Linked DNA regions of Homo sapiens. The protein of the gene in region 2 purifies or fractionates together with the protein of the main gene of each other region. This does not show direct contact. Each region holds a gene or a part of one and is shown on either strand. Other genes may lie near its edges.

Region 1 (3,652 bases), on a different chromosome or scaffold from region 2:
CCTCCGTGCCCGGCCATATGCTAGGCACAGTAGGCACAAAGACAAACAAGATTCATTTCCTGTCTGCAGGGAACTTTCGGGAGACAGACAAGTAAATGAGTGCATCCAACTGTGATGGGTACTGTGACTCTTTTACGTATGGGGTGCATTGAGAGAACAAATAAAGAGCTCTGGCAGGGGGCTGGGAAAGGTTTCATAGAAGATGTGAAGTGTAAGCTGTTTTGAAAGCTGAGTGGGGTCTCACCAGCTGGATGAGGGTAGAAGATGGGGAGTAGAAGAGAGCATTCCAAGCAGATGAAATATAGTCAGTCCAGGGAGAGTGCTGGGAGCCTCCAGGGAGACTACAGGTTGAAAGCCTAAAGGGACCGTCTAAAGTTCACCAGGTGTGGGCTTCATCACTTGCTTATTGGTCAATGGACCACATGGAGGCACTTTCTGGACTCTGAGAACCTCTGTGATAGTGTAGAGACAGCAAGGCCCAAGATGACCCAACCTCCCTGTTTATTAAGCACTTATAGTTTGCTACAGTTTACAGGACACCTTGGGGAGAAAAAAGTATACAACACACACACACCCACATACTCATAATACAAATATATAAAACACACAATTCACACTTGTATTTTATACAGATTACCCACCTATAAGCCCAAATATCTGTTCTTCAGAAACTGTCAGAGACTTTAAACTCTCCACTCCTCAATACTTACAACACTAAGGATGTGAGATATACTTAGGGAGACTGTCTAAAAGCTAAGCAGTACATCTATTCTAGAGGAAGATTTCAAACTTTCAAACCTACAGGCATGGAACTCTTTTTGTAAGGCAACCTTACCCTGGACCCCAATACATAAAATAAAAGCTCTTCTTTTAAGCAAAGGTAGGTAGAGTTCTGCTTTGGGGCCACTGAGACATGCCTGGGCACCTAGGCCTCAAAGGAGCACAAGGATCAAAATATGTTAAGCTTGGAAAAAGTCAGGACACCGATGAGCTACATACTCAAACCACATAGTTTTGTTCCTTCATACTATTACTTTTGTTGTGAATTGTGTTTTGGTGAGAAGCATGAATTTGCATTGAGATAAACTGTAAGAACAGCATATAAATACTCAGTGCTGGAAGGATGTTTGATATTCAAGACATGGTCACATTCAGCATACAGAGTCTGCTCTACAGTTGATGATGAAGAGTAGTGCTTCTCTGGAATAATGGGTTTGTTTTTATACTAGGACACTCTAAACCATGTAGCTGATTATGTTTCCCTCTTGGCAAAGGTTGCTAGGAAGCTCAAAGACAACATTTTGGCCCCAACTCTTGCAGGTGTCCAAGAACTTAATACTTACCCTAGCTTCCTCTTATTTTTCCCTCACCCTTGCTTTCCCTTTGCTCCAATTTTCTCACTTACTTATTTATTTTTATTGTTGTATTGTGACCATTTTTATAAGATATCTCAAGTCCTTTGTGGAAGGAACTGGTAAAAAAAAAGAGTTTATAAATTTAAAATTTATTTACACATTCAATATAACAAAATATATACATATCAAAAATGATGAATTATCTAAAACTCACAGCACAAAGCCCATATGTACCTCATACAAATATAAAACAATACACACAGATCACATAGGTACATAATTCACAATCACAACACTAATGTCATAAATACAAACACACTCGTACCCTGTTTACCCCACTCTCATGAGCATGTGTACAAATGCACACATGCACATACATGTGTCATGTACATACCAAGCTGCTCTGCAAGGAGCTGGCCCTTCTCAGTGGGAACAACCCTCTCTTCCTCCATGTCACACTTGTTCCCCACCAGAATAACTTGTGCATTGTCCCAGGAGTAGGTCTTGATCTGAGTAGCCCTAAAATGAGATAGAAAGAGATATGTTAATCATATTCCTATAGACTGAATGTCTGTGTCCCCACCTCCAAATTTACATGTTGAAGCCTAATCCCCAATGTAATGGTATTTGGAGGTGGAGTCTTCGGGATGTAATTATGTCAATGAGGCTAGAGTCCTAATAAATGTGTCCATATAAGAAGAGAAAGAGGCTAGAGCCCTCTTTCTCTCTTGGCCATGGGAGGATACAACAAGAAGCTGGCTGTCTCCAGATACTGGAGCTGCTGGCACCTTGATCTTGGACTTCCTAGCTCCAGAACTGTGAGAAAGAAATGTCCGTTATTTAAGCTACCAAGTCTATAGTATTCTTGTTATAGCAGCCCAAACTGACCAAGACACATACCCTCCTATGACAAAAAGAAAACTGTGAAGTGTGAAGAAATGGTTTCTCTTCCACAGGACTAGCAACATCCAAGTTATTGCCAATTAATTCAGCTGAGGACAGACAGATACCTGTCCCTGCTGGCTGTCACAGATGCTGACTCCTAAGCCCTAGCTGCAAACCTCATCCATCTTTTTGAAGTCCACCTCTACCATATCTGGCCATCCCTCTCCTCACTGGGCAGAGAGGTCTTTCTAAAACAGGTATTTGATCACAATGAATCTTTTCTTAAAAGCCTTCTCTGGCCCCCAGCTAGCTATGTGATCAAGTCCAGATTCCTCAGTTCAAGATCACTCATGCTGTGTCTCTCCAGCCTCATTACCCATTCTCCTGCCTCCCTAACCTTTTTACTCATTCCCCAAAAGCTCTTCCATGGCTTGTGCTTTTGCCTACACTGGGAAGTCCTTCCCCACAACTAACTCATCCTCCAGGGCCCAGTGCTGATCCCACAACACCTTGAGGGGAGCCTCTTCAAGCTTCTCCTAGATCCACTTAGCCTCCACCTCCTCCTATGTGATTCATAAACCTTCCCTGAAGCCTCGGATTATGATTATTTGCAGGAACCAAAATGTCAGCAGTGGTTACCTTCATATAAGATGATTATAAGACTTTTAAAAAATACTTTTTGGCCGGGTGCGCTGGCCCACGCCTGTAATCCCAGCACTTTGTGAGGCCGAGGTGGGCGGACCACGAGGTCAGGAGATCGAGACCATCCTAGCTAACATGGTGAAACCCCGTCTCCACTAAAAATTAAAAAAAAAAAATTAGCTGGGCATGGTGGCAGGCGTCTGTAGTCCCAGCTACTCAGGAAGCTGAGGCAGGAGAATGGCGTGAACCCGGGAGGTGGAGCTTGCAGTGAGCCAAGATCGCATCACTACACTCCAGCCTGGGTGACAGAGCGAGACTCCATCTCAAAAAAAAAAAAAAAAAAAAAAACCTTTTCAAATTTCTGTACTTTTCACATTTTTAAAAGTGAGCATGTATTACTTCTTTAATTAAAAACAAAATTTTAAGAGGAAATAAAAAAGGACTCTCTTATATTATGAAGACATCTTTTTGTGGAGATGGGCCTAACATTCCCCAAAGACCCCATCAGGTAGAAATGATTACTTCCTCTTTTGGTCTCCTGCACGTTCACCATGACACCTATTACACTTGGCTGAATTTGTCTCTCTCCCTGAGGGCAAGGACCGGCCTATTCATCTTTGGGATGCCAATACCCAGCACAGAACACACAGCGAAGAAGGTGTCAGTGAATGCTGATAAATGAACGAGCCAGTGAATGGTCAGTCCTGAAGCAGATCTTGAATCTGACTCTACCCTGACACTGACAACCTAACTCAACCCTAACTGCAACC
Region 2 (3,752 bases):
CAGGAGAAGCTTGCCCTAGGCAAAGCCAGGTGTCAGGTCCAGAATCGAGACTCCAGAGAAGAGGTTGAGGATTTAAGCCACTGAGGGGGTGGAGCTGGGCAGTGAGTAGGACGTCAGGCTTGCAAGCTCTGGGATTAGGCCGACCAGAGCCCATATCCCAGTCCCGCCTCTTACTGCCTGCTTGATCTCAAGCAAGACCGCTTTGTTCATGGGCGAAAGGAGCGCCCCGGGCCATGAGGATTAAATGGAGAGCACAGGGCCAGATCCATCTAAATTCTCAGTAAGTGTTAGCTATTGTTATTAAGACCACACCGAACAGACTGAACATCCGTTTTAGCCCCTTTCCCCAATTTTCGTTCTTTCCGGTGTTGACAAATCCTCTAGTTTTTTAAGTTTATAAAACATGTTGTACATAAGAATGACATATCACATGTGAAAGTACTCTAGTGTCCACGTAAATATTTGTCTTGTTCTTTATAATAAGTAAACATGCTCACGGATCCTTGAAATTATCTGGTCACTGCCGGGCGCGGTGGCTCACGCCTGTAATCCCAGCACTTTGGGAGGTCGAGGCGGGTGGACCACCTGGGGTCAGGAGTTCGAGACCAGGCTGGCCAACATGGCGAAACCCTGACTACACAAAAAACACAAAATTTAGCCGGGGCTTGGGCGCTCCTGTGCTCCCAGCTACTCAGGAGGCTGAGGTGGGAGGACTGCTTGAGCCTGGGAGGTCGAGGCTGCAGTGAGCTGTGATCGCGCCACTTAAACTCCAGCCTGGACGACAGTGAGACCCTGTCTCAAGAAGAAAAAAAGAAAGAAAGAAAGAAAAAAAGAAAAAAAAGAAATTATTTGGTCAATTATATGGTCAGCTCCCTCCACCACTCGCGAATTTACAGAAGAGGAGAACTGGGCTGGGCGAGACCAGGACTAGCCCAAGATTACACAAGTTACTCGGTTGTAGAGCCAGGATTAGACAGGAGAGGCTCTAGATTCTGGTCTAGACTCCCCTCCTATTATTTAGCATTATGGCTTCCTGAGGATTACCATGAGCCCTCCTCCACCGTCAAGCGGCAGCTACCAGCCACCAGACCAGATCCCTTCGAAGGTGCCCGGAGTACCAGACTGACAAAAGCGCCCGTACAGTGCTCAGTCCTGTAACCAAAGCTGTCTAGGGTGCAGACATCGCTCACCGGACCGGGTAGGGCTCGTGCGCTAAGGGCGCCGGGTATTCCAGTTAGTGGAGAGGGAAGCGCCCTGGAACTGCATGGGCCCGGGAGAGGGCGCGGGAGCGGAGCAGGGCCGGGCCGGGGCGGGCCGCGGCCGTGGGCGGAGACTGCGCGCAGCTAGCTCGGGAGCGCCTCGGAGCCCACCCCGCAGAGCCGCTTCTCGCGCCCCGCAGCGCAGCGCAGCGCTCCGCCGTCTGACCTGCCGCGCCCGCAGCGTGCGGGCTGGGAAAGGAGGCGCTCACCGAGAGGGACCACGCGCCAGGCTCCCAGCCCGACCCGGGACGCGGCGGCCGCGCGGAGCACCCATGGGCAGCCCCTGGAACGGCAGCGACGGCCCCGAGGGGGCGCGGGAGCCGCCGTGGCCCGCGCTGCCGCCTTGCGACGAGCGCCGCTGCTCGCCCTTTCCCCTGGGGGCGCTGGTGCCGGTGACCGCTGTGTGCCTGTGCCTGTTCGTCGTCGGGGTGAGCGGCAACGTGGTGACCGTGATGCTGATCGGGCGCTACCGGGACATGCGGACCACCACCAACTTGTACCTGGGCAGCATGGCCGTGTCCGACCTACTCATCCTGCTCGGGCTGCCGTTCGACCTGTACCGCCTCTGGCGCTCGCGGCCCTGGGTGTTCGGGCCGCTGCTCTGCCGCCTGTCCCTCTACGTGGGCGAGGGCTGCACCTACGCCACGCTGCTGCACATGACCGCGCTCAGCGTCGAGCGCTACCTGGCCATCTGCCGCCCGCTCCGCGCCCGCGTCTTGGTCACCCGGCGCCGCGTCCGCGCGCTCATCGCTGTGCTCTGGGCCGTGGCGCTGCTCTCTGCCGGTCCCTTCTTGTTCCTGGTGGGCGTCGAGCAGGACCCCGGCATCTCCGTAGTCCCGGGCCTCAATGGCACCGCGCGGATCGCCTCCTCGCCTCTCGCCTCGTCGCCGCCTCTCTGGCTCTCGCGGGCGCCACCGCCGTCCCCGCCGTCGGGGCCCGAGACCGCGGAGGCCGCGGCGCTGTTCAGCCGCGAATGCCGGCCGAGCCCCGCGCAGCTGGGCGCGCTGCGTGTCATGCTGTGGGTCACCACCGCCTACTTCTTCCTGCCCTTTCTGTGCCTCAGCATCCTCTACGGGCTCATCGGGCGGGAGCTGTGGAGCAGCCGGCGGCCGCTGCGAGGCCCGGCCGCCTCGGGGCGGGAGAGAGGCCACCGGCAGACCGTCCGCGTCCTGCGTAAGTGGAGCCGCCGTGGTTCCAAAGACGCCTGCCTGCAGTCCGCCCCGCCGGGGACCGCGCAAACGCTGGGTCCCCTTCCCCTGCTCGCCCAGCTCTGGGCGCCGCTTCCAGCTCCCTTTCCTATTTCGATTCCAGCCTCCACCCGCCGGTACTTCCCATCCCCCGAGAAAACCATGTCCTGTCCCCCAGGAGCTCTGGGGGACCCCAGGGCGCTTTGAGGGTGGGATCCCCGGATCCGATTCAGTAACCAGCAGTGCTTTTCCAGAGCCTCTGAGACCAGAAAGGAGAGTTGGTAATTCTTAATCCAACCACCTGTTAGATGCCACAGATGAGGAGTCCTCACAGTGCTCTTGAGAAGACGAGGGAGATTTCATTAAGCTAAAATTTTTTATTTAATGTTAAGTGATGCTGAAGGCTAAAGTAAACCTTGCTCGTATCAAAAAGTAAAGATTGTGCAGACCTGTTGTAGAATTCTTTTCAACAGAGAACAGAAAACTTGTCTCCGAAGTGGGTTTGTGGAAGGAAGCCTGCCAAGGCGGCTTGTTCAGAGAAATTGCTCCTTCTGGTTTATGTCCAGCCTTGATAACACATATGGGAGCCTACTATGCAGTTTTAAAGCAAGTATCCATGCAGCCTGCAGCCTGGTCATTTTTTCTGGGGTGAGGATCTGCCTAGGTAGAAGTTTTCTCTAATTTATTTTGCTGTTACTTGTTATTGCAGATGGTTCCTTGTCGGGGTGGGGGGTTTATTTGCTTCCCAATGCTTTTGTTAATCCCGGTGCTGTGTCTTATGTTGCAGTGGTGGTGGTTCTGGCATTTATAATTTGCTGGTTGCCCTTCCACGTTGGCAGAATCATTTACATAAACACGGAAGATTCGCGGATGATGTACTTCTCTCAGTACTTTAACATCGTCGCTCTGCAACTTTTCTATCTGAGCGCATCTATCAACCCAATCCTCTACAACCTCATTTCAAAGAAGTACAGAGCGGCGGCCTTTAAACTGCTGCTCGCAAGGAAGTCCAGGCCGAGAGGCTTCCACAGAAGCAGGGACACTGCGGGGGAAGTTGCAGGGGACACTGGAGGAGACACGGTGGGCTACACCGAGACAAGCGCTAACGTGAAGACGATGGGATAACCAGCACGGCCAAGCCAGGCTCCTCTTGCAGTTCTAAGACTTTGGGGAAAACAGGTGTGTAGAGAAATAAAGACTGCAAATGAGGAACAGATCCTGTTAAGAAGAATGGAAAGAGGGTTGCAGTTGTGCCAGTTGGTTAAGAAATAGACCGCATGATTTATTTAACCAAGGTATGAAATGT

What was found. The genes of interacting proteins can lie anywhere in the genome.
Region 1: the proteins of MLNR (region 2) and RAB3B purify together in Homo sapiens (affinity purification with mass spectrometry; one large-scale study listed by BioGRID and IntAct). This does not show direct contact.

The regions. Positions count from the first base shown.
Region 1 is NC_000001.11:51,931,569-51,935,220, forward strand, and holds part of RAB3B (ras-related protein Rab-3B), read right to left. Parts: intron 1,875-3,652; coding exon 1,750-1,874; intron 1-1,749. UniProt on the Homo sapiens protein: The small GTPases Rab are key regulators of intracellular membrane trafficking, from the formation of transport vesicles to their fusion with membranes.
Region 2 is NC_000013.11:49,218,807-49,222,558, forward strand, and holds MLNR (motilin receptor), read left to right. Parts: upstream 1-1,531; coding exon 1,532-2,432; intron 2,433-3,233; coding exon 3,234-3,571; downstream 3,572-3,752. UniProt on the Homo sapiens protein: Receptor for motilin.